4 linked regions of the Homo sapiens genome follow. The protein of the gene in region 4 interacts with the protein of the main gene of each other region in a biochemical or structural test. Each region holds a gene or a part of one and is shown on either strand. Other genes may lie near its edges.

The links.
Region 1: the proteins of USO1 (region 4) and GOLGB1 form a complex in vitro, tested with the Homo sapiens proteins (one study listed by BioGRID).
Region 2: the proteins of USO1 (region 4) and GOSR1 form a complex in vitro, tested with the Homo sapiens proteins (one study listed by BioGRID).
Region 3: the proteins of USO1 (region 4) and SCFD1 form a complex in vitro, tested with the Homo sapiens proteins (one study listed by BioGRID).

What each region holds. Positions count from the first base shown.
Region 1 is NC_000003.12:121,746,727-121,754,609, forward strand, and holds the start of GOLGB1 (golgin subfamily B member 1), read right to left. Parts: upstream 3,016-7,883; 5' UTR 2,906-3,015; exon of another isoform or gene 2,284-2,905; intron 1-2,283. UniProt on the Homo sapiens protein: May participate in forming intercisternal cross-bridges of the Golgi complex.
Region 2 is NC_000017.11:30,522,388-30,528,102, reverse strand, and holds the end of GOSR1 (Golgi SNAP receptor complex member 1), read right to left. Parts: 3' UTR 511-5,715; downstream 1-510. UniProt on the Homo sapiens protein: Involved in transport from the ER to the Golgi apparatus as well as in intra-Golgi transport. It belongs to a super-family of proteins called t-SNAREs or soluble NSF (N-ethylmaleimide-sensitive factor) attachment protein receptor.
Region 3 is NC_000014.9:30,618,509-30,625,348, reverse strand, and holds the start of SCFD1 (sec1 family domain-containing protein 1), read right to left. Parts: upstream 3,031-6,840; 5' UTR 3,011-3,030; coding exon 2,950-3,010; exon of another isoform or gene 2,887-2,949; intron 1-2,886. UniProt on the Homo sapiens protein: Plays a role in SNARE-pin assembly and Golgi-to-ER retrograde transport via its interaction with COG4. Involved in vesicular transport between the endoplasmic reticulum and the Golgi.
Region 4 is NC_000004.12:75,727,547-75,734,576, reverse strand, and holds part of USO1 (general vesicular transport factor p115), read right to left. Parts: intron 1-7,030. UniProt on the Homo sapiens protein: General vesicular transport factor required for intercisternal transport in the Golgi stack; it is required for transcytotic fusion and/or subsequent binding of the vesicles to the target membrane.

The sequences.
Region 1 (7,883 bases), on a different chromosome or scaffold from region 4:
GCCTTGGCCTCCCAAAGTGCTGGGATTACAGGCATGAGCCACTGCGCCCGGCCTAACTCACTTTATTCTTAAAACAACCGCAAGAGGGAGTACCGTCAATATTCCCAGTTTTAAGGTGAGTAAACTAAGGCAGAGGGATGTTAAGTAATTTCCCCAGTCACATAGTTCGACAAAGCTTCTTGGTGGGTGAAGATACACAGAAAATATTTTATTTTCTGAATAATCTCATTATCCAATATTCTTTACTCGGGTTGAAAACAGAATGAAGGGATAAAGGCACTATGTTAATAGTTAGGTAAGTACTTTTTTTTAAAGCAGTAAGTAAACTAAAATGATTCATATTAGTATGGCCCCAAATAATTCCATATTGTTTATACCACAGACAGGTTCACACAAGGGCCCTAAGATATATATACATGGATGTTATATATATATATATATATATATATATATATATATATATATATGGATGTTACATAACAAAACATGTTATGTATGGATGTTACATAACAAAACAAAAATCCATGTGTGTATATATATATGTATATATGTATATATGTATATATATGTGTATATATGTATATATGTATATATGTGTATATACGTATATATGTATATATATGTGTATATACGTATATATACGTATATGTCTATATACGTATATATATACATATATACGTATATATATGTATATATATACATATATACACATGGATGTTATATAACAAAACACTACAGCAGTGTTTTGATGGCTAATGACTGAAAATCTAAATGTCCATCAATGGGGACAGGCTAAATACTATTTTTATATTTTTACAAAGGACTGCTGTGTAGCCATGGAAAGGATGAGGTAGTTTTATACCCATGGATATTGAAAGTGCCTAATATACAGTACTAAATGGCAAAAGCATGTGTATTAGGATTCCACTTGTGGGAAAGACAGAAGGGGGTATATATTATCATGTGCTTTATTATGATCAGAAAGTTTCTTAAATATAACCAAGAAATTATTTACAGTGCTTACTTCTGGGAAGTGGGGAATGGAGATGGGTAGATCAGTAGATAGAAAAGAAAAAGACTTTTTTTACATTGTATCCTTCTGTATTAAATTTCCTTTTATCAAAAGCATATAGCTGATTTTAAAATAGCTTAATTAAAAATACAGCAATATAGAGCTTAGTCTCCTTTTACATAATGGTTTCTAACCACAGACTGGTATGTAATGATCAGTGGTATTCCTAATAGTAATTAACCTAGAGAAATTAATGAATGATTTATTTTATAAACAAGGATAAAGTCAACATCCCTTTAATTAATCCATTAATCAAAGGGAGAAAAAGAAAGGGGGCCTATAAAACTCAAGCAGAAGGTTGAAAAAAATCTTCTAAAGATCATGTTTAAGAAAGGCTGCATCCCAGAGTCTGGATGCCAGAAATGCCAACGACCTTCTTGAAAAACAAGGAAGTATCTTTACGTGATTGTCAAATTGGGTTGGGAGGTCCCAAGGTGTGGACAAGGCTTTTTAAAAACTTCATTCTTTTACGTTTATACTTTTGCATATTTCATATTATACACAACATATTTACAGTGGTAGTCATACACTATAAATAATTAAACACACAACATTTGGGGAGATGCATGCTCAAAAATGTTTTACTGATAGGGAGTGCAATTAAAAGGTTTGGAAGCTGCTGAGGTAGTAAAAAATATTGATGCAGTGAAAAGAAAAACATTAAATGGTCATTCTGTGGTCAAGGGATGAGAAGTAAAAGCTATGAAGCAGTTAATGTACAATGCCTGCAACTTTTGAGTACTCTTCAACTTTTTCCTGCATCTATTCCAAAACCAAATCCTGCCATTTTTCCAATAGGATATTTCCTGAGTTTGCCCCTTCATAACCATTCTGACCATCTAAATCTTATCAATTCACGCTTTTGGAAAGGCCTCTGGCCCTTATGTAAAGAGCCCTCCACTTGCTTGCATCTTGCACAGAACTGTAAAAAGGTCCTTTAAATGCTCAGACAGCTTCCAACTATCTCCAAAAGTGAAAGTACTTACCCATGATTGTAAATATCCCTGTCCCACTCTCAAACTGTCCGCTCCCCATAGACCAACTGGAGCTCTTTAAATAAGTCAGACAAATATATTCCTCATTCCTCAAAGGACTCACCCTCCCTTTCACATTCCGGTTGTGCAGATTAAACATACTCCACACCATCAAACCAAGTTATTTTTCCTCGAGAACTCTCTTAGAGGTTCCTTTTTCTCTAACAGCCTGCCCACCTCTGATTCCTGGGATTTTCGTGTTGACGGGATCGTTGGGATCTTTCCTCTCTTCTCATCTTTCCAGTAACCCATTAGCATTAGCAGGATTATTGGACAGGCCTCCGTTTGCATTAATATCTCCAATGATTCTGTGATCTCCGCCCTAAAGACCTTTGATTTCTTTTGGTCGCGCCTCCCCTTCGGGACACCAAGTTTGTTTAGGGCCTGAGCACAGGGGCCCAGCAGGTTCTTTCCGACGTCAGCGGCTGCGTACGGAGGCCGACTTAGGCAGGCCGCTCCAGGAACAAGGCCGTGCGGACAGGACTGACCTAGGCGCTTTTCCCCGTCGCTCCCAGAGGAGAAACGTACCGGGGAGGGGACAGACCGTGAGCAAGTGGTCCAAGTCTGCGCAGGGTGACCCCGAAGGCCCACCGGAGAGGCCGAGGCTTGTGGGCTACTAGAACTAGGCCTGGTAGGTGAAGGAGGCGGGTGAAGGGCCGGATCCAGGACTGAATCCGGGAGAGGCGGGGCGAGGAGGGGACTCCGGTGTAGCTGCTTGGGCAGCTCCCGCGGCCCCTCTGGCGGGGGTGACCGTTATTGGACTCGCAGAGGGAAGAGTTGGGTAGCGTCCCCTACTCACCTAGAAGCGCTGCCGCCTGAGGCTCCAGCTGCCCCCCTCCCAATTCAAGCCACGTCAGCTCGGGAAGCCCGTACGCGACACCTTCCACCGCCGCGCCCCGCCAGGGACTCAGCCACTAGCAGTTGGGACGGAAGATGGGATTAAGACACCGACCAATCAGGACTATCGGCAGGACGTTACCAGGGAGACCAGGCACACCTTGTTTGTTACCAACCTATCAACAATGACGGAAACCAATCAACGACAGAAGATGCTCCGCTTCCTCAAAGAAACAGCCAATGGACCCTAAAGAGTGAATGAGGGGAGTGATTAGACGCGAGTAGGTGCCCCGGAACAAGATCTGGGGAGGGACAGGAAGTGTCGAGTGGGCGGGCGTTCTGGGAAAGGTCAGATGTTCTCAGTGTGAAGTGGTTATGCTGGCTTCCTCCAATTCCTCCTCTTCGTCGGTTGTGACTGACCGAGACAGCGGCTTGGGCTTCGGCAGAGACTTGAGACTGCGGGCACCCGCTGCCATTAGGATTGTTGAATGAGCTGTGAGAAGGGAGTGGGGGATATGGGACTCTTAGATTGAAAAAATACTGGAGCCTCTTAGTTGTTCGTCTAGTTTCACCTTTTGATTTTGTTGATGAAAAATAATTAACCACAGAAGTAACTTGCCCAAAGTCAAACAGCGACTTAGTGATGGAACTCGGACTAGAACCCGGTGTCAGTATGAAAGAGGATCAGCAATGTCTGTAAGGACATGATTGTGAGAGAGAGAGTAGTGAATACTAGGAAGGTGCCTCTTACAAAGTGGAGCCTAAGCCAGGACCTAAGCAAAGATTGAGAGTTGAGGGCTCAGGCTCTGCAATGAGTGTCAGTGAGGAGCTCCAGCAAAAGACTGAAATCACTCATGCTTTCCTTAAACCCCTAAGGAAAGGGAAGGAAAGTAGCCAGTTTCCAATGAGCTGTCATTTCAGGCACTCTCTTGGCAATAAGAGTAATGTTAGTTTGAATTTATTGAATCTTGCTGTGCACTCAGCTGGCCCATTGTATGTATACTCATCTTAATGATTACATAACTTCACAATTCAAACATCAGCTAAGTAAGGCCTTTCCTGGCTGCCCATCTTACGGAACTGGAGGTCATTATTCTAAGTGAAATAAGTCTGGCACAGAAAGACAAATATCCCATGGTCTCACTCATGTGGGAGCTTAAAAAGTTGATCTCATGGAGTAGAGATAAGTACCAGAGGCTGGGAAGGTGGAGTTGGGGGAGGGAGGGAAGAGATTGGTTAATGGGTACAAACGTAGATAGAAGGAATAAGTTCAAGTGTTTGATAGCACAGTAGGGTGACTATAGTTAACAATATGTTATATATTTCAAAATAACTAGGAGATTAGAAATGTTCCAAACACAAAAATGATAAATGTTTGAGGTGATAGATATCCTAAACACCCTGATTTGATCATTACACATTGTATGCATATATCAAACTACCACACCCCATAAATATGTACAAATATGTATCAATACAAACATAAATAAAATTGCAATTTCCTGCATGCACTATATACTTCTTCTTTGCTTCTTTTTCCCCTAAGCATTTTGCCATCTAAAGTACTATATATTTCATTTATCTGGTATCTCTCTTCTCATTAGATTATAAGCTCCAGGAAGGTAGTAATTTTGATCTCAGCTTTATCTCCAGGTCCCAGAAAAGTATAGAGGAGGGCACTCAATATCTGTTAAATTAATAAAGTATATATGATTATCCTTATCTTAAATGTGAGACAATAAGACTTCAGAAGGTTAAATAATTTGCACAAGGTCACATGGTGAGGGGCAGAGACAGAATTTGAATGCTGCAGTACTTAATGAATACATCATATTCTTATATCCCTGATTGTATCCACCCAGCAAAGTCCTAAACCTGCATCAGTCCAACCATTGGTCTCTACTTCTACCTTTGGGGAGCAAAATGCTGCAGGAGACATCAGGACAATGTCATCAGTGACATCAATGTCCTGACCACTGCACATTCAGTTTCCAGCTGAACTCCATCTTCAGCACACTCCCAAATCCTTCTTGTCTTCAGCTTCCTCTCCTATTTGCCACAATTATTCAAACCTTTAACATCCTCTTTAAGTCCCAACCCCGTGTCTACACTTCACACTCCTAGCAGATGAACTTGCTTCTATCTTAGAGAAAATAGAAGCCATCACTGAGAGTCCTATTGTACTCCCTTACACAAAATTTACCTTTCTACATACTTATTTCCACATTCGACCTTAGAATTTACCTTTCAGTTTTAACAGAATGAAAGTTTCTTATGGGAGACGAGATTAGAATTTTTTCTGTCTAGTAGGTCTTCTTATAGCTCTACCTTCTATTATTGGGTGAGCACAGTATGGTGAGAATTATAGTGAACACTAGGGGTGTGAAGGAAGAAAATGAGGTGGAGAAGTTAAAGAGCAAAACATATTATTTCTAAGTTCACTGAAGGACTGGAAATAATTTAGAATGCAACTTAATGGAAGCAATTTAGGCTCTGAGAGGGTGATCAAGATAATAAAAGATAATTAGGGGTTGCCCCAGCAAAAAAGAGGGTACAGAATAGTGGAGGTAGATGGAGCAGCATGTGCATGGACCATTTGGGCAATTTGACATAAGTGATATGACTGAATGGTTAGGCAAAGAGTAGGTCATAAAATTGTGCCATTTTATGCTAAGGGGTTTGGATATGACTCTAAGCTCCAGAGCAGTTAGAGACTGCAGAAATCACAGAAGTGTGGAGTCATTCAGGTGTCCCTTAGAGAGTGATCATTTCCCTAATTGAAAGTACAGGGAGGAAAAGTTGAAAGACAAGAAATGTCACATTCTCTGTGATTTACTGTTGCCCAATTCCCTCTCCCCTTTTTCAGTTCTTTCCTCATCATCATCTTACCTTCCTCTATACCAAATGCAAACTTATTCCAAAACTTTCATGCAGCCTTATTTATTAATGTATCTTCCATACCTAACGTATCTTCAGCATAGTATATACTCAATAAATATTTGTTAAATAAAATATCCAACATAGAATTCTATATGAATAAATCTTAAAATCTTGGAGAAATAAGAAATTGTCTTGAAAAATATAACTTTGAGACATATCAATTATATGCAAAAATATACAATCACATGATCACATCAACCAATGAAGAAAAATATTTTCACAAGAAGAGGGAAGGTGGGGAAAGAAGAAGAGGGATGGTGGGGAAAGAGGAAGGGAGATGAGGGGGGAAAAAGAAGAAGGAAGGAGAGGAAAGAAAGGGGAAAGGAAGACGGAAGGTGGGGAAAGAAAAAGAGGGATGGTGGGGAAAGGGGAAAGAAGAGGGATGGTAGGGAAAGGGGAAAGAAGAAGAGGGATGGCAGGGGAAGAAGAAGAGGGAAGGTGGGGGAAGAAGAGAGGGAAGGTGGGGATAGGGAAAAGAAGCTGAGGAAAGAAGGTGGGGAAAGAAGAAGAGGGAAGGTGGGGGAAGAAGAAAAATCAACACCCATTCATGATTAAAAAAAAAAACTCAGAAAACTAGGAATCGAAGGATATTTACTCAACTTGATAGAAAAATATTGCAGATTCTTAATGGTGAGAAACTGGATGCTTTCCCTCTAAGATCAGGAACAAGGTAAGGATGTCCCCTGTCACTACTCCTAGGTGACATTATACTAAACCTCCTGCCTAATGTAAGACAATAAAGGGAAATAAAAGATATTCATACTAGCAAGTAATAAATAAAACTGTCTTTGTAGATGGCATGATTTTTTATGTAAAAAATATCTAAGAATAAACAAAAACCTCCTGGAATTAATAAGCAATTTTAACGAGGCTACAGGGTAAAAGGTCAATTGCTTTCCTCAGCAAAGAACAATTGGAATTTGAAATTAAAAACACAATACCATTTACATTAGCCTCAAAAAAAAAAGACGAAATAAATACTTAGGCATAAATCTAACAAAATATGTACAGGCTCTATGTGAAGGAAACTAGCAAACCTCTGATTAAAAAAATTAAAATCTAAATAAATTGAGAAATATTCCATATTCCCAGAAAGCATCAGTATTGTTACGATGTCAATTCTTCCCAACTTTATCTGTAGATTCAATAAGATCTCAATCAAAATCTTAGCACATTATTTTGTGGATATCAACAAATTAATTCTGAATTTTATATGAAAAAGTAAAAGACCCAGAATAATCCACAGACTATTCAAGAAGAACAAAGTTGGAGGACTGACGTTACCCAACTTCAAGACTTACTACACAGCTACAGTAAACAAGACAGCATGGTATTGGCTAAAGAATAGACAAATAGACCAATGGAACAGAATGGACAGCCCCAAAATAGATCCACATAAATGTAGACAACTGATCTTTGAGAATGGAGCAAAGGCAATTCAATGGAGAAAAGAGTCTTTTCAATACATGGTGCTAGAACAACTGGAAATCCACATGCAAAAAATGACACACACCTTATACCTTTTATACAAATTAACTCAAAGTGGATCTTAAGATGTAAATATAAAATGTAAAAATATAAAACATCTATAGGATAATTTGAGACTCTAGGTGACTTTGAGTTTGGTGATGACTTTTCAGATACAACACCAAAAGCATGAGCCAATGCGGGGGGGAGAACACAATAAGTTGGACTTGATTAAAATGAAAAACTTCTGCTCTGCAAAAGGCACCGTTAAGAAGATTAAAAAAACAAGGCACAGACTGGGAGAAAATATTTGTAGAATACCTATTTGATAAAGGACTGTTACCTAAAATACACAAGGAACTCTTATAATGCAAAAATTTTAATTAAAAAAATTCACAAGTGGGCAAAAGATCTGAACAGACACCTCACCAAAGAAGATACACAGATGGCAAATAAGCACACAAAAAAATGCAGCCGGGCACGATAGCTCATGCCTGTAATCCCAGCACTTTAGGAGGCCGAGGCAGGCAGAT
Region 2 (5,715 bases), on a different chromosome or scaffold from region 4:
TATTCACACATTACTGGTAGGCACGGGCATTGGCACAATTGCTTTGGAAAAATGTCTGACAACATATCTTAAAACTGAGTATGTGCATCACCTATAATCCAACAATCTTATTCCTAGGTATAAGCAACAGAAAAGTGTACATGTGTGTCCCAAAACCCATGTTCGAGAATGTCCAGAGCAGCACAATTTGTAATAGTTCCAAACTAAAAATAAAAGCTATCGGTCTAGAATGGAATGACTAAATAGAATGTGTGTACTTATAGAGCGTGGTTCTCCACCTCTGGCATGCATCAGAACCGCTTGGAGGCTGGTTAAACTGATTGCTGGGTTCCACCTGTCTATCTACACAGAACCGACCTTATATTTCCCCGCTCAGCTGCCTTTATCAAAATTAAGGATGTCTGCTGATCACCTCTTGAATGTTCTCTCCTCTCCCACATCAGCAAGAGGGAAAAAAAGAGGCAAAAGAGGCCCGGTTTCTCGCTATTAGGACAAACCCAAGGATATCTCTTATGTCAGGTGAGCCCTGTACCCCTGGCTTTGCTGAGATGCTTATGAGCATTTCCTCACATAACCCTGACAATATAATCAGGGCACAATTATGGTAGCCATCCTTATCACCATTTTATAGAAGAGGAATTGATCACTGGCTGGATTAATTGCAAAGCTCTAAAATTAGACAGTGGGGCTGGTTGCACAACTAATGTACTAAAGCCCAGCAGTACACGATTTTTAAAAAATTAATTTATTTTTGAGACAGGGTCTCTGTCACCCAGGCTGGAGTACAGTGGCACAATCGTTGCTTACTGCAGCCTTGACCTCCTGGGCTCATGATCCTCCTACCTCAGCCTTCCGAGTAGCTGGGACTATAGGTGCACACCATCATGAATGGCTAATTTTAGTTTTTGTAGAGACAAGGTCTTTGCTGTGTTGCCCAGACTGGTCTCAAATCCCTGGTCTCAAGCAATCCTCCTGCCTCGGCCTCTCGAACTGCTGGGATTACAGGTGTTAGCCACTGCACCCAGCCAATTCTACAATTGTAGATTCCCATTATGCCTCCTGAAGTTTCATGTTAAGAGATTCCCCTTCACTTCTAGGGCTAAAATACTAGTGGACTGTTCATATGATGGTTTCTGAATGACATGTGACAGCTTTTCAGCACCTGTATTATTTCATCCTGGGTTTCAGGACATCATGAGAAACACTTATCAACACCAGAGATACCATAATCTCTATCCCCAAACTACCTTGATGGTTACTGTTTCAATATAAACAATTACAAATGCAATCATTTAGATTTCTAATTTATTATTAAATTACATACCAAAGCTTCTTCTATACAGTCAGAAAATGCACATTTAGATGAGAACAAAAATTAAGTACAAATACAATAAAATTGGTTCCAAGAAGCTATTTTAAAAGCAAAAACTTACAAAGTGCATTTGGAAAACAATAGGTTTTAAAAATCTGTATTGGCATTTTTTCAAGAGGAAACATCTTCCATCACAGGAAAGTATGGTTGGAATTGATTTCCCTCCTCCCTTAAGAGCTAACAGGGTGGGAATGGATGCAAATACCTTGATATTAAAGTGAGCTCTCAGGTATCTTTTAATTTTTTTTGCAGAGACAGAGTCTTGCTACATTGCCCAGGCTGGTCTCAAACTCCTGGCCTCAAACGATCCGCCTGCCTTGGTCTCCCAAAGTGCTAAGATTACAGGCGTGAGCCACTGCACCCAGCCCTATTGTCATGGTTTTTCATATTTTTTCAGTGAAATGAAAAGTTTTGAGTGGTTACTTAAAAGGACCAAAAAGGAAAGATTCATTATAATAAGACAATAGTTGAGGGGGCATAACTTCCCCTAAGAGGTAACATTTGGATCCAGAAGTAGAAAATTCCTTCTGACCTCCTGGCTGTGACTAGCATTAACAAGTAACTAACTGTTAGCCTCTGAATCTGGTAACTGGTCCGTAAGGAGGACAGCAAAAAAGGAGAGAAAGCCAAGGTGGTTAAACAAAAAAGTTAAATGACATGGAGCTGAAAGAGCTCAAATCCCTTCATGGGATCCCCACGGAGCCCCTTCCTGTGGACACACACCTCTCTTCCCTTGCTGGAGGTTTCTTTCTGCAAAGAAACCCTAAGAGGAAAAAGCACTGGCCTAGCTGTCTACATGTGGCCCTGGGTCACCTTAGTATAGGCTGCAGCACGGAGAGGTTAGTCAGACCTATCTGACACCAACATCCATACCAAGCCTTTTAACTTCCTTGGAAGAACTGGTTTATTTTCATAAAGAAAATAACCAACATAATTCCATTACTTCACATAAGCAAAACCCTAATGGAAAGGCCCATCAGCCATCAACAGGGTTTGCTTGGCTGCAGTGAGCTAGACTAGCTTGTGTCCCAGTTCACTCTCACACAATCAGCTTTAATGAATGCACAAAAGAATCAGACCAGTAAAAAAGACTGGTAGTATAATTAAATAAATAACTTTATTTATGATACTTCAGATTTTATAAATGCCAACTACATAGCAAAGTCCCATAAATTTTAACCGAGACACAACCACCAATCAAGGCCCTTTGAAAAATCAAAGATAATAAAGTGTCAAGGGAGAAAAGTTTTGTTCTCCCAACAGAGAATTTAATCAATGAACTTACTTCTCTGATCATTTAAGGTTCACAATGGGAAAACTTCTTTTCTTTTAAGGGTACCCTGAATCAATTAACAGTCAATCAACCCACATTTAGAAAAATAAACCCCATAGTTAAGAAAAATATATCAAATGCCCTTCACACCCATAATGTAACAAAACTTTGACACCAGAATGAAAAACTTCTCAGTCTCTGTACCAAACCAGGTGTTAGTCCACCCATGAGCAAGTTCGCCTGAATAACAGCATCTATACACCATGATGTAGCTGAGAACTACAGCTGATATCCTTTTATTGCCTGTGGCTCGGACTGAAGCCAATACTATAAATACCACAGTGAATTCCAATGGTGAAGAGCAGCAGTGTAGATGTTGGAAGTCTACAAACCAGGCTGTAGTTCAGTAAGACAAGTCATGAATTTACAGAAACTAAGAAATGGTTAACTCGAAAAGAATTCTGGTGGCTGGCTTAAAATCTGTCACTGTCCAGGGATGGTAACAGAAGACAGGTGCAGAGAGAGACAGATTCTGCCACATGCACCCTCAACAGTGAAACCATTCTCTGGATGTTTGGAAATGCTTAACAGATTTGGAATGAACAGATTTTCACAGAACTCAGGATTCCTGGTACATCAGGCAGTAGTCCTTAAACTTTTGCCCATACGTTGTGGAGCATTTACAAAAGCAATTCTCTGGACAGTGAGCCCTCAATGCCTTTTTATATGTGGCTTCTTGAATAGATCACATTAGAAATTGAGCAGTCCCCTTCCTCAGCTACCAGTGTCAATGCTGGTATGAGGAGGAGCAGTGGGGGCACTGACAGACACTGGTGATTCGTTTCTTTTATCATAGTGGAACTGAGATTTCATTTCTTTTCAGTAGAAAATATTAATCCAAGGGAAGAATTAAAAAAAAAATGGAAACAATGACTGGTGCCTTAAATATAAGACTGTCATTCTTGATGTTTTTCCAGCAATACAGTTAACCCCAGTGTACTTGTAATTTAAAAGAAAAAGACAGTTTTACAGTGATCTCCATTTCAGACAACCTCAAACATGCTGAAGCTGGTCCATCAGCATCTCAAAGAATCTATGAAAAACAGAATTTTCCCCAAATATCAACAGAGTTGAGGAGACAGAGTAGAAATCTATAGCACAGATCATCAAGAAAGAACTTGTGATTTCTCATTATGAGTGTAAAATAAGAGGACAAGAATTATTATTATATTATTTTTTTTTTAATTGATCATTCTTGGGTGTTTCTCGCAGAGGGGGATTTGGCAGGGTCATAGGACAATAGTGGAGGGAAGGTCAGCAGATCAACAAGTGAACAAAGGTCTCTGGTTTTCCTAGGCAGAGGACCCTGCCGCCTTCCGCAGTGTTTGTGTCCCTGGGTACTTGAGATTAGGGAGTGGTGATGACTCTTAAGGAGCATGCTGCCTTCAAGCATCTGTTTAACAAAGCACATCTTGCACCACCCTTAATCCATTTAACCCTGAGTGGACACAGCACATGTTTCAGAGAGCACCAGGTTGGGGGTAAGGTCATAGATCAACAGGATCCCAAGGCAGAAGAATTTTTCTTAGTACAGAACAAAATGAAAAGTCTCCCATGTCTACTTCTTTCTACACAGACACGGCAACCATCCAATTTCTCAATCTTTTCCCCACCTTTCCGCCTTTTCTATTCCACAAAACCGCCATTGTCATCATGGCCCGTTCTCAATGAGCTGCTGGGCACACCTCCCAGATGGGGTGGTGGCCAGGCAGAGGGGCTCCTCACTTCCCAGTAGGGGCGGCCGGGCAGGGGCGGCCGGGCAGAGGCGCCCCCCACCTCCCTCCCGGACGGGGCGGCTGGCCGGGCGGGGGGCTGATCCCCCCCACCTCCCTCCCGGACGGGGCGGCTGGCCGGGCGGGGGGCTGACCCCCCCACCTCCCTCCCGGACGGGGCAGCTGCCCGGGCGTAGACGCTCCTCACTTCCCAGATGGGGTGGCTGCCGGGCGGAGGGGCTCCTCACTTCTCAGACAGGGCGGCTGCCGGGCGGAGGTCTCCTCACTTCTCAGACGGGGTGGCCAGACAGAGACGCTCCTCACCTCCCAGACGGGGTCGCGGCCGGGCAGAGGAGCTCCTCACATCCCAGACGGGGCGGCGGGGCAGAGGCGCTCCCCACATCTCAGACGATGGGCGGCCGGGCAGAGACGCTCCTCACTTCCTAGATGGGATGGCGGCTGGGAAGAGGCGCTCCTCACTTCCTAGATGGGATGGCGGCCGGGCAGAGGCGCTCCTCACTTTCCAGACGGGGTGGCGGCCGGGCAGAGGCTGCAATCTCGGCACTTTGGGAGGCCAAGGCAGGTGGCTGGGAGGTGGAGGTTGTAGTGAGCCGAGATCACGCCACTGCACTCCAGCCTGGGCACCATTGAGCACTGAGTGAACGAGACTCCGTCTGCAATCCCGGCACCTCGGGAGGCCGAGGCAGTCAGGCGTGGCGGCGCTCGCCTGCAATTGCAGGCACTCGGCAGGCTGAGGCAGGAGAATCAGGCAGGGAGGTTGCAGTGAGCCGAGATGGCAGCAGTACAGTCCAGCTTCGGCTCGGCATCAGAGGGAGACCGTGGAAAGAGGGAGACCGTGGGGAGAGGGAGAGGGAGAGGGAAGAATTATTTTTATTCACAATCCAATCTGGCAGCTAAAAGAAAAGCAGTCTTTGGATGTAGAAACCTGGTTTTCTGAAGAGCCCAGCTGTAAGACCTGGCTTGTCATTAGGCTTCAACACTATCATGGAAACACAGAAAACTCTGTTTTTGATTGGTTTACCTGCCTCCTAGGGAGACAAAAGCAACTGAAAACCTTTTTTTTTTTTTTTTAATTAAAAACAGAAAAATGTGTTAGAAAACACAGCACAGAGAAACTGTGGCTTCAGCTCAACCTGACCATGTCACAGAGTCCATCACTGTCAGTCTTGCATTCATCCTGCTGGTCAGGCTAATTATCAAGACAGTCAACTTCTCCCTCCGATGTTTCCTTATTCCAGACCAGGGTGTGAAAGCGGTGGCTGTCAAGAGTCCCTGAA
Region 3 (6,840 bases), on a different chromosome or scaffold from region 4:
AATAATGCAAATATTCCAAAATCAAAAACACTCCTGGTCGCAAGCATTTTGGATAAGGGATACTCAACCTGTATCCATATTCCTAGACTTGGTTAATGTCATTACTTACATACACACTATTCATTCATTCAACACGTTTGATGAGTGCTCACCACAGGCACTGTAGTTATTGGGGATCTAGCAACTGAACAAAACAGTGAATAAAATCGCCTGTCCTCAAGTAGCTTTCATTCTAATTGGGGGATAAAAAAAATAAAATAAAAAAAAAGTAAAACATATGGTATGTAGATCATGGTAAGTGCTTTGAAGAAAGGTAAGATTGGGAAAGGGGAAGATGGAGTTGAGGTGTAATTTTAAACAGAATAATTGGGGAAAGCCTCCTGAGAAGGTAACATTTGAGTAAAGACCTAAAGGAAGTGAGGGAGTGAGCCATGGAGATTATCTCTGAAACAGTACTCCACAAAGAAGAAACAAATACAAAGGCTCGAAGGTGGGAGCATTCCTGGTGGGTTCAAGGAGAGGGAAGAGAAATAGGGAGTGAGGTCCAAAAGCTACATGGAAACCAGATCGTATAAAGCCTTGTAGAACACTGTAAGATCACTTTGGCTTTTATCATGGTTGAAATGGGAAGATGCTGGAAGATTTTGAGCAAACATATGGCATGATCAGTTTGGGTACTGTGTGAAAAATAATGAAGGAGAACAGGATTGTAAAAGCAAAGAGACCAAATAGGTTACTGCAGAAATTCATGGTGGACAGGACCTCGGAATAGCAATGACAACAGTCAGATCCTGGATGTATTTTCAGAGTAGAACTGACAAGATTTACTGAAAGATCTTACATGAGACATGAAAGAGACAAGTCAAGAAAACTTCAAGGTTTTTGACCTGAACAACTAAAAGGACGGAACTGCCATTAACTGATATGGAGTAGACTGAGTTCAGATGGGACGGCCAGACTAGGGATATAAACCTGGGAATCATCAACATACAGATAATACTGAAAGCTAAGGCGCTAGATGAGAACACTAATGGGACCCTGCAATGTTGAGAAGCTGGGAAGATGTGCAAGAACCTGTAACGAAGACGCATTCAATGAAGAACAACAGTAACACGGAGCAGGAGGCAACTGATTCTACCTATTGAACTGAAGGTATGGATAGAGGGGACAGTGAACCAGGAAGAAAGGAGATGGCTTGTGGGATGACCTTCAAAAGATCAATAAAGATTTTTCAGGAGACCAATAAAGATTTTTCAGGCAGGCAAAGCAAGAAACAGGCACGTTAGTTTACCTCTATCTTACTTTCCTCACCTGTAAAATGGAGATAATACATAATCACCTAATGCAATGCCTAACAATAGTAAATGCTCAATAAATGCCAACTATTATCTCATCCACCCAAATATTCTAGTATCTAGAATATTTAAGGACTGTGAGTTATCTCCCAAAACATTCTCCATAGGCATGAGGGAAATAGCTAATTCTGCATTATAATATATATACAAGGATTTACCTTCCTCTGAAAATAAGGCAGAATTCAATGACAGTAAAAATTTGATAAAAAATAGATCTAGCACTACCTAGTAATTCTGTAAAATCTTACTATGTTTATTTCTGCAGAAATACAAACGATTAGATTTTAATGATCTACAAAATTTCTGCATACAAGTTTACGGCCACGCAAATTTATTTTTCAAAAAGCTCTCTTGTATTGGTACAGTTTTACTGACACGTTATTTTAATATGTAGTATAGTCATCAGAAACACAGTATTAAAACAAATGGAGCTTCCATTTGTTTAAACATATACAACGAATGGCAGGTATGCCCCAAATCTTATTTGAACTTCCCTATATTTAGTTATGCCTGACTTCACCTGATAGGTTATACTAAATTATTTACTGGGAAAAGCAGAACGCAACTCAGTATCTTTTGTGTGTCATTACTAAATTGAAGTCTATCACTTTTTCTTTAAATGCCAAAGGAAGGAATCAAGTACAGCCCAAATCCCTTCTGTAGGTCATATGAATTATAAATTTATTTTCCTATTCATATTTATATCCAACAGAGCATAATTTCAGGAAACAGAATTCCAAGTATGCACATTCTTGATGCCTTATTTCTATTAGCTCCTCAGAATAAATTGCTTGAAAACTTTTAAGACAACTAGTTAACAAGTATAAACCTTTAGTTTGTAGCTAACAGGTATAAACCAAGTTGTCATGAGAAGTTTTCAAGTAAGGCAAAACTAATTTCTAAGACGGAAAAAAACCCAAAACTCAAGAGAAGAATATGTGCCTTTTTACATTTCTCTGCATAAATAGAAGCTATATAAACATGCTCTATTGAAGATAAAATATTATTTTAAAACAATGTGTCAAACAATTAAAATGAGAAAGCTATTAATTCATTTGTTTTGCCATTCTTCAATGCCTTCCAGCAAGCTGAAGGAGAAAATGTTTATCACCAGGCATTTTTCTGCAGGTACCCCCAAAAGACTGGTCCGAAGTAGAGAAGTGGCGCAAAGCAAGCCGCTGTGAAAATACCTAAATTCTCTGAGTGTCAGAAAATGGGAGTTCTCTTAAAAATCAAAACCAGGAGAACTGAACCACGCACAGAAACTCGGAGACCTCATAGGTGGCAACATAGATAAGAAGCTATCAGCTGCTAGATCTTGTTGTGATGGCCTTCTGATGCCCACTAGGAAGGAGACAAGAGCAGGGCCGTAGCAATCCGCCCACCGCTGAAGCTCCTTCTCCTGCACCACAGGAGGAACCGAGTCCTCAAGCTAATGGCAACTTCTCCCCAAAAACTCAAAGGGGAGGGGCTCTTGATGTTCTAGGGACTGGATTAAACTCCTGGAGATCGGTCTCTGAGCTGCACGCACCAGAGGAGAAGGATGTCGTCGGGGCAGTCACGAAGCTTCAAGGAGAAGAGAATAAGTCAGTACCTGTCTGCCTTTCCCGAATACTGGCTGCTGCTGCTGCTGTCGCTGCCGCCGCCGCCGCCATCTTGGCTCCCACGAGCCACTGCCCGGCTGGGGAGCGGAGCGGGGGGATGACGTGGCTGCCCTTACCGCCCCGGAAGCAAAGCCCGGAAGGGCGGGGCCAAAGGGTGTGCCTGAGTTCCGGACCCCACCTCCTCCAGGAAGACCTCCACTCTCGGTAGAACTGGGAGACCCGGTGCAGGTTAATTCAGTGGCCCGTAATGTTAGGCGAATACTAAGAGTTTTTATCCTACCGAATCAAGCCACACTCTCTCAAATGGTAGCAACATTAAATTGAGCTGTTAGGGTAGGAGCGTGTAGTGCTAAGAACCTAATTACTGAACTGTTGGTTTGGTGACTTACAGAGCACTTAAAGGGTGATAATGCTCTAGGAGTATAAGGACCACAGGACTGAAGTAAATGAAGCTCCTGAAACACAGGCAACATTTTAACGTTAGCTCTCGTTTCTCAGTGCAGCAGGAGTCTTCCCTTTGCTCCTTTCTCCAGAGAAACGGAAAGCATTGGAGCATTACTCTGATCTGGCATATTTCTCAGTCGCATCTCTTTAAAAAAAAAGGTGTAGCTTTATGGTGGCGTTCTGCCGGCATGGACACGGGATCCAGGGAGGTACAAAATGAGAAATTAGCATTTCTCCTCTTTCCTTGTAGTAATTGCAAAATCACCTTGCCGTGGGAAGGAAGTCAAGCAGTAGTGGGGTGTGTTGCCTAGGCTGGAGCGCGCAATCAGGGATCACTGCAGCCTCAAATTCTGACGGTCAAACGATCCTCCTGCTTCAGTCTCCCAAGTAGCTAGGGACTACAGGGGCACACCATCAGGCCAGGCTGATGTGCTGGTTTTTGTTGTTGTTTTGTTTTTGAGATAGTATCTCACTGTCTGTCGCTCAGGCTGGAGTGCAGTGGCAGAATCTCGGCTCACTGTAGTCTCGACCTCCCGGACTCAAGCGATCCTCCCAAACTATCCTTCCACCTCAGACTGCCCACTAGTTGGGACTATAGGCAGGGGTCACCACGCCCGGCTAAATTTTTTTTTTTTTTTTTTGTAGAGACGGGGATTCACCATGTTGGCCAGGCTGGTCTTGTGCTGGCGGTTTAATGTACACTTGAAGCCACGTGACCGCAAAATATATGGGATAGATGATTTCTAACTTAATCCATAGATTTTACTGTATGACCAAAATGGATACACAATGACACCTCATTTCCCGAGTTCATTGATGACGCTTCATTATGAAGTTGCACCAAATTCTGAAATGAAATCACTCTGTACCTCAAAAGCTTAACTTTCACAATTATATAAATGAAATGGTTAGCCTAACGATTATATATTGTTTTATAGTGTGAAACACTGGCTTTTTTCATTAATAAAAATTTATTTTTGTGACATTTAAAACAGGTTATCTTATTACATAATCTCTGCCGGGTGCGGTGGCTCACGCCTGTAATCCCAGCACTTTGGGAGGTAGAGGTGGGCAGATCACCTGACGTCAGTAGTTCGAGACCAGCCTGGCCAACATGGTGAAACCCGGTCTCTACTAAAAATACAAAATTAGCCGGGTGTGGTGGTGGGCGCCTTTAATCCCAGCTACTGGGGAGGCTGAGGCAGGAAGAACTGCTTGAACCTGGGAGGCGGAGGATGCAGTGAGCAGAGATCGCGCCACTGCACTCCAGCCTGGGTGACTGAGTGAGATTCTGTCTCAAAAAAGAAAAAAAAATTATGTAATCTCATTTTTATAGCTAATTGGCACATTCATTAAGAAATTAACTGGAATACATGTGTGTCTTCAGTACTATTACTAATATTTTGAAGGAATCTTCAATGATCTAGGTGTGTTCCAACTAAACAAATTATTTCTGCCCTATGGGAAAGTTCTACTGCATTCTACAGTCTCTATGAAATATAAAATGTCTGAGAGCCCAATTTTGCTCATTTGGGTACTTCCACTTTCAAATGCAAATCCATCATTGAGCCACTTCAGTTCCATCACAGATTCTCTCCCAAGACTATGAGTCATGTTAAAACCACGAAGACAATTTTAAAATTGATGTACACTGCATATATATGAAATGATAAAAACTCCTGACCAAGTGCACAGAATGTGGGCAATAAATTTATAGAAAAATACACCTCACAGAAGAACAGCAACCATAGACAAATAGCCCTTGTAAGGCTGAGACTGAATAAGGTATTTGTTTTATTAGAATCAGAAAGACTGAAAATAATCTATGGCTACAGATTGTTCATTAACCTAATTTACTATAGCCATTTATCTGAGTCCAGATTTTTGGCTTAAATAATTTATTCTGGTAAGCTATTTTACATTAGAGGATACATAGTTTTAACACAGATTCCCTCATTTCTATAGGTTCCTGGGTGTCAGACACTAACTGCTTGCTTATAGGATCTCTCAAATGTGGAGAGTAAAGGAATCTTGTATCTTTCAGTTTCGTCAGAATCTTAATCTTATTAAATCCCAAAAAATTACTTAGTTTAAATAGGCAGTTTACCTTTAGTGGCATAAACACATTTATTTATTTATAAAACATTGTTATAAATGTCACGCTTTTTGGTTAATCTGGCAGTCTTTAAAAGGGGGGGAAATAGGCTGACATATAAACGATCACCTAGCATAATACCTGGCATAGTGTAGGTACTGGGATATGTTTATGAATTAGAAGAGATAATGGTCAAAATCAGAACTTGAAAACTGAGTCTCTTCAAGACAATCCAAATTTTCCTAAACCACAGATAATATACATTCAAGTAATTCATCATTAAATGGGTTATGTTTTGTATTGCATTACTTGAAGCATGAAACTTTGTATTGCATTACTTGAACCATAAAAACTAGTTTAATAGCTTATTTTAAAGTAACAATGCAGTACATGATAATCACTATATAAAAGAATTACATGTTTATAATGTAATGATTTTGTTCTGATCATTTTCTTATAATGACTGAATGCTAAAGGCACAGTCACTGAAAAAACTTACCTAATATACTCCCCTTGACTTAGTATTTAGCACTGAATACAAAAGTTCCAATAGCTTCCATATAATTAGGGGAAAAATTTACAAATGCATAAAATAGAAACCAAGGTGAATTCTCATGCTGGTAATCAATCAAAGGCTTTTTACTTAACCCAAACAAAAAAAGTCACTTCCTCAAATTACAGAAACTAAAAATTACAAAGTATAAAATTGTAAGTTTCTGGTGAGATATTTTAAAGAATATCTTGAATAGTAGAGAATTGTATAAAAGGTGTTAAAGTTTCCATATTGGAAAGTGTTTAAAAACAATGAATATCAAACTAACCAAAACCATTAACAGTAGATGCATTATAGATCAATTTATAGTTTTCCTCAACATTAAGAGCAAGAGAAAACAGCCTTAAAATATACAACATTTAGGCAATTGCAATATTTAAGAAATATATGTACACATTTATAAAGATTTATAGCATAATTCTTTTTTAAAATCTAATGTAAGAATTATGCACTGGTTATAAAATTAATAAGAAAAGAACAATTATAATACCAACCATTTGACAAAATGACACTGCAGAAAATAAATAACCTACAGGTTTCTCTGATATTCCTTGACCATACAGATTAATCTAAAAATGGTAATAATGGAACATCCTTCAAACTAGAAAACATTTTGCAAAATAAATATTTATGCTTCACTTTAAAACATGAATATCCTAAATTATTTACACCATCTTATCACTAAGGCCCTGTCTATATATAAAATAAGTCAAATGAGGAATTGAAATACTGTTTTTAATTGTAGCTAACCCAAGTACACTGCCTCTCCACCTGCCACCCCCACCCCAA
Region 4 (7,030 bases):
AAGAACAAAGCTGGAAAAATCACACTACCCCACTTCAAACTATACTACAAAGCTACACTAACCAAAACAGCCTATTACAGACATGGAGCAATGGAACAGGATAGAGAACCCAAAACTAAAGCCACACACCTACAACCATCTGATCTTTGACAAAATTGACAGTAACAAGCAATGGAGAAAGGACTACCTATCCAATAAATGGTGCTGGGATAACTGGATAGCCTTATGCAGAAGAATGAAACTGGGCCCTTACCTTTTACCATATACAAAAATTAACTCAAGATGGATTAAAGACATAAATATAAGACCTAAAACTATAAAAAGCCGAGAAGAGGCTGGGCATGGTGGCTTACGCCTGTAATCCCAGCACTTTGGGAGGTCAAGGTGGGAGGATCACGAGGTCAGGAGATCGAGACCATCCTGGCCAACATGGTGAAACCCTGTCTCTACTAAAAATACAAAAATTATCTGGGTGTGGTGGTGTGCATCTGTAGTCCCAGCTACTTGGGAGGCTGAAGCAGGAGAATCGCTTGAATCCGGGAGGCAGAGGTTGCAGTGAGCCAATCGCACCATTGCACTCACTCCAGCCTGGGTGACAGGGCCAGACTCCTACTCAAAAAAAAAAAAAAAAAAAAAAAAAATCCTCGAAGAAAATCTAGGAGATATCATCCTGGACATTGGCCTTGGCAAAGAATTTATGACTAAGTGCCCAAAAGCAATTGTGACAAAAACAAAAATTGACAAGTGGGACCTAATTATACTAAAGAGCTTCTGCACAGCAAAAGAAACTATCAACAGAGTAAACAAACAACTTATAACCTGGGAGAAAACATCTGCAAACCATGCATCTGACAAAGGTCTAATATTCAGAATCTGTAAGGAACTTAATTCAACAGGCAAAAACCAAAAACTCTTAAAAAATGGGCAAAGGACATGAACAGACACTTCTCCAAACAATACATATACATAGGCAAGAAATATATGGAAAAATGTTCCACACCACTAAATCATCTGACAAATGCAAGTCAAAACCACAGTGAAATACCATCTCCCACCAGTCAGAATGACTATTATTAAAAAGACAAAACAAACAAACAAAAAACAGATGTTAGAGAGGTTATAGAGAAAAGGGAATGCTATATACTGTTGGTGGGAATGTAATTTTAGTTCAGTCACTGTAGAGAGCAGTTGGGATATCTCTCAAAGAACTTAAAACAGAACTACCATTCGACCCAGCAGTCTCACTACTGTATTTTTTCAACAAATATTTGTCATGCAGCTAATACAGACTTAATTTATTTTTTTTAATTTTTTTTTTGAGACAGAGTCTCACTGTGTTGCCCAGGCTGGACTGCAGTGGCGTGATCTCGGCTCACTGCAACCTCTGCCTCCTGGGTTCAAGCTATTCTCCTGCCTCAGCCTCCCAAGTAGCTGGGACTACAGGTGCCCGCCACCACGCCCGGCTAATTTTTGTATTTGTAGTAGAGACGGGGTTTCACCATATTGGCCAGGCTGGTCTCGAACTCCTGACCTTGTAATCTGCCCGCCTCGGCCTCCCAAAGTGCTAAGATTATAGGCATGAGCCACCGCACCCGGCCCTACAGACGTGATTTTATGATATAACCTTACCTTCATGAAGCTTAAAACATTCCTAAAACAGAACTCCCCCAACTATGACTTTTTTTTTTTTTTTTTTTTTTAGATGGAATCTCGCTCTGTCGCCAGGCTGGAGTGCAGTGGCGCGATCTTGGCTCACTGCAACCTCCAACTCCCTGGTTCAAGTGATTCTCCTGCCTCAGCTTCCCAAGTAGCTGGGATTACAGGCACAGGTGCCACCATGCCCAGCTAATTTTTGTATTTTTAGTAGAGACGGGGTTTCACCATGTTGGCCAGGATGGTCTTGATCTCCTCACCTCGTGATCTGCCCGCCTCAGCCTCCCAAAGTGCTGGGATTACAGGCTTGAGCCACTGCGTCCAGTAACTATGACTATTTATTGTAAGACTAAAATAATCCATGCTAATAGTCATTTCAATTATAATGTTTTTAATGAAATAAGGGAAAATAAAGAAAAATAAATCATTCTATCAAAAAGCCATATGCACTTGCATATTCACTGGAGCACTATTCACAACTGCAAAGATGTGGAGTCAACCTAGGTGTCCATCAATAGTGGACTGGATAAAGAAAATGCAGTACATATATGCCATGGAATACTATGTCGACATGAAAAAGAATAAAATCATGCCCTTTGCAGCAACATAGATGCAGCTGGTAGCCATTATCCTAAGCGAATTAATATAGGAACAGAAAACCAAATACTGCATTTCCTCACTTACAAGTGGGAGCTAAACAATGAGTAAGCACGGACCTAAAGATGGGAGCAGTCAACACTGGGGACAACAACGGGGGGAAGGTGGGAGAGGGGGCGAGAGTTAAGAAACTACCCATCAGGTACCATCCTCACTACCTGGGTGATGGTTATACATCAAACCTTAGCAACAGGCAATTTACCCATGTAACAACTTGCACATGTAACCTTCTAAAACTTTAAAGTTATGGGGAAAAAATATTGTTTAGAGAAATGTTTATTTTCATAAACACATTTGCTTATGAAACAATACTAATTTACGTTTAATCGTTTATAAAAATATAAAAGCAAAAAAATTAAAGGACACTAGTGTAATACAGCTTGCAGTATTTTTTCACAATTCTTTTTTTTAAGTATTCAGTAACTACTTAACTGACAGGAAAAAATAAAGAACAGGAATGGCAATTAAAATGCTAACTCTAATCAATCAATCATTTATCCAACAAATATTTGTCAAGCACCTAATATTGATTTAATTTTATGATATAATCTTACCTTGAAATTTAAAACATAGTTGTACCTTCCTAAAACAGAATTTCCCTAACTGTAAGACAAATAATTCATGCTAATAGTCAATTCACTTATGTTTTAGATGAAATAAAAATATTATTGTTTTAGATTACAAAAGTCATTTTTTTTTTTTTTTGAGACGGAGTCTCACTCCATTGCCCAGGCTAGAGTGCAGTGGTGCGATCTTGGCTCATTGTAACCTCCACCTCGTGGGTTCAAGTGATTCTCCTGCCTCAGCCTCCCTAGTAGCTGGGATTACAGGCACCTGCCACCATGTCCAGCTAATTTTTGTATTTTTAGCAGAGACAGGGTTTCGTCATGTTGGCCAGGCTGGTCTCAAACTCCTGACCTCAGGTGATCCACCCGCCTCAGCCTACCAAAGTGCTGGGATTACAGGCGTGAGCCACCAGGCCTGGCCCAGAAATTTGTTTTAAATTTAACTCTGTTACTGAGAAGACTTTATTAAAACAGCAAAAGCAAATCTTATCTTCATATGACCTAAATTATTATAATCTATAAAAAGAGATGTGGGAACATTAAAAAATCAAACACAAGTCTCTTTGTAGACAAATCCAATGAATCCATTTCCATTATAGTTACCTTAAGTCAGCCAAGTAATATACTGCTTCATTTATTCTCCATGCTCTTTCCCATAAATGAACTATGCTTTTCAAAAGGACATCGTTTTAAGCAAGGGGTCATAATGAAACATGTCTACCAAATAACCTATCACAAATGCTAGCATCTCAAAATCTAACACCACAAAAGTTTTTCTGTAATCCCAGCACTTTGGGAAGCTGACAGGAGGATTGTTTGAGGCCAGGAGTTCAAGACCAGCCTGGGCAACATATTGTGAGCCTGTCTCTTTAAAAAAAAAAAAAAGTTTTCAAATTAATGGTGAATAACTTTTGACACAAAAAATGTTTATGGCACTTCTGCTTGAGGTATAAAAATAATAAGCATAACTTTACTATACCTACAACAGACAAAAAGCAGAGTACAAAGCAGTAATATTAATAATAAAAGGTAAATACATAAAAAGAAAGAGGAACAGTATTTGGTATCAACAAATGTATATAAGGAATTCTAATATTCTTTCCTAATCAGATTCAAGAGTAATGTTTTTAATGAAATAAAGGAAAATAAAGAAAAAGGCATCAGAATTATATATCCTCTTGGACAATTTTTCCCTAAGTATGCTTCTCAAAATAATAGATAACAAAGTTCCCTAGAGGAAAAAAAAAGGTCTGGTCAGATAAATTTGGCAAACAGCTTACTTTTTATCTACATTTTAAAAATATCTGAAACTATAACACAGTGCCTGCTTACAAAACCTTGCATAAATACTAGAGGTTTTTTCTTTGTTAGTGGTCGTTGCACACACTTCTTTGCTGACAAAATTTTTTTCATGGACATCTATTCAAATTTTTTGAAGCATACCTTGGTAATGCTACGGCATGTATAATTTAAATGATTCTAACTTTTAAATGAACCCTATATAATCTACAAAATTAACCTTCCAAAAAGCCATGTAGTATTCAATAGGCCCTACTTAAAAAGAGTGCTTCGATATAGAAATGACCAAAACACAAATCATTATTACAGTTCTCTCCGACATTGTTATTGCAAAACAGGCCAAGAGAGAAAACACATTCCAGTTATGACATTGACCTGGTTATTAATGTAGAATACATCAACCCAAATAGGAATTTCAGACTACACATTTATAGTAACATGGTATAAAATGTGCTTGACTAAACGAAAACTATGTCTAAATTTAAGTCCACACTCTTTAATAACAATTTTTATTAAAAGAAAATATGGCTGTGTTTATATTGTTAGCCCTTCTGCTTTCTGAGACAGCTGATGAAAGTTTGATCTGGAAAGAGACCCCATAACAATGTTCTAATTCTGTATGCTTTTTCTGGACATTAGCAACTTTCATGTCTCGGGGTCCAACTTGAGAACAGAAAATGCCTCTATGATTCATCATCAAATGTAGTTAACACTTGCTTGGAATTTTCAAGAAACTAGCTTTAAAAAAGGTACAAGTTGGGGGCTGGGCGCAGTGGCTCACGCCTATAATCCTAGCACTTTGAGAGGCCGAGGCGGGCAGACTGCCTGAGCTCAGGAGTTCAAGACCAGCCTGGGCATCACAGTGCAACCCTGTCTCTACTAAAATACAAAAAAATTAGCCTGGCGTGGTGGCGTGCACCTGTAGTCCCAGCTGCTCGGGAGACTGAGCCAGGAGAACTGCTTGAACCCAGGAGGCGGAGGCTGCAGTGAGCCGAGATTACGTCACTGCACTCCAGCCTGGGCGACAGAGCGAGACTTCGTACCCCACCCCCCTACCCAAAAAAAAGGTGCTAGATAGAAGGCAGATATAACACTAAGCACACATAAGCTTACATTCAAAAGCATGAAGTCCCTGGTGGTCTAGTGGTTAGGGAAAAAGAGAAAACTAAAAAACAAAAGCATGAGTAGGATTTGTACTATAATAATATGCACCCAGCAAACTGTGTCAAGGCTAAAGAGGCTTCAATCACCAGAAATCAGTGTCAAGTAAAAAAGAGAAATGAAATGTAAAAGTACCCGACTCTGGGGCCAGGTGCCGTGGCTCACACCTGTAATTCCAGCACTTTGGGAGGCCAAGGCAGGCGGATCACGAAGTCAGGAGATCGAGACCATCCTGGTTAACACGGTGAAACCCCATCTCCACTAAAAATACAAAAATTAGCCGGTGTGGTGGCAGACACCTGTAGTCCCAGCTACTTGGGAGGCTGAGGCAGAAGAATGGCGTGAACCCGGGAGGGGGAGCTTGCAGTGAGCCAAGATTGCGCCACTGCACTCCAGCCTGGGCCACAGAGCGAGACTCTGTCTCAAAACAAAACAAAACAAAAACAAAAACAAAAGTACATGACTCTAAAACAGAAAAAGTTTAATGTGGATGAAATTCTGAATTTAAAATATCCAGTACTTTATAGAATTGACTATCCTATGATAAAATATTTACTACTTGACAGGTTCTCAAGAACATCTTTCTTTTTGAGACAGTCTCGCTCTCTCGCCCAGGCTGGAATGCAGTGGCACAATCTTAACCACTCAGTGGTTGCTCACTGCCAACCACCGCCTCGATTCTCCTGCCTCAGCCTCCTGAGTAGCTGAGATTATAGGCATGTGCCACCATGCCCAGCTAATTTTTGTATTTTTAGTAGAGACAGGGTTTCACCATAAAAATGTGCTTGACTCCAGAAAGGAGTTTGGCCAGGCTGGTCTCAAACTCCTGACCTCAAGTGCTCCATCTGCCTTGGCCTCCCAAAGTGCTGGGATTATAGGCGTGAGCCCCCGGCCTGAAGAACATCTTAATATCAGTCCAAAGTTACTCTTAACTAAGAGTATGAAAAGCTAGATACTATACAATCAATCACATAACTCTCACACATTTAAAAGATACTTAAATTCAATAAGAAAAAAAAAAACAAGAAAGCAGTCAAAGCATTTAGTAAATATGAAAAAATCCCTTAAGTAAAAAGCTTGACACAATGAACTTCATTTGAGAACTTCAGTTTCTAGTCTTTAAAAAGTGTTTTAGTACCTAGTAACGTAAGTTGCTATAATTACAGATCTGTGATTTCTTTCAAATAAAACTATAATTAATTCATTTCACAAGTATTTACTGGGCATCTACTACTGTGGAAAAACAAAGATTAAAATACATTATGAACCCTGCCCTAAAGACACTTTAAGAGTCTAGAAGGAATAAGATATATGCACACTGTAGTTAAAATGTAAAGGTAGCTCAGAAAGGAAAAAGCATCTGAAACGTGCTGGGGGAAAGTACAGATTAGGGGAGGCGCTGATGATGAATTTAAATAACAGGTCTAATTCAGACAAAGAAAAGAGCCCTTCCATTGGAAAAAAGATGTTAGAAAAAGCAAGAAAGATGGAAAGCCACCATGAAAAAAATTTAATTTTGCAGAAATGGAAAAAACTACAAAATAATAAATGATAATATAGAAGCTAGGGGTTCCAAGCTCTGGTAACTCAAATATCCTGGCCAGACTAAATCATCAATTAAAACATCTAAAATTGTATATACACTCCACTGATGCTCTATAAATACTTCTAAATTAGTAATCCATGACCCCTTT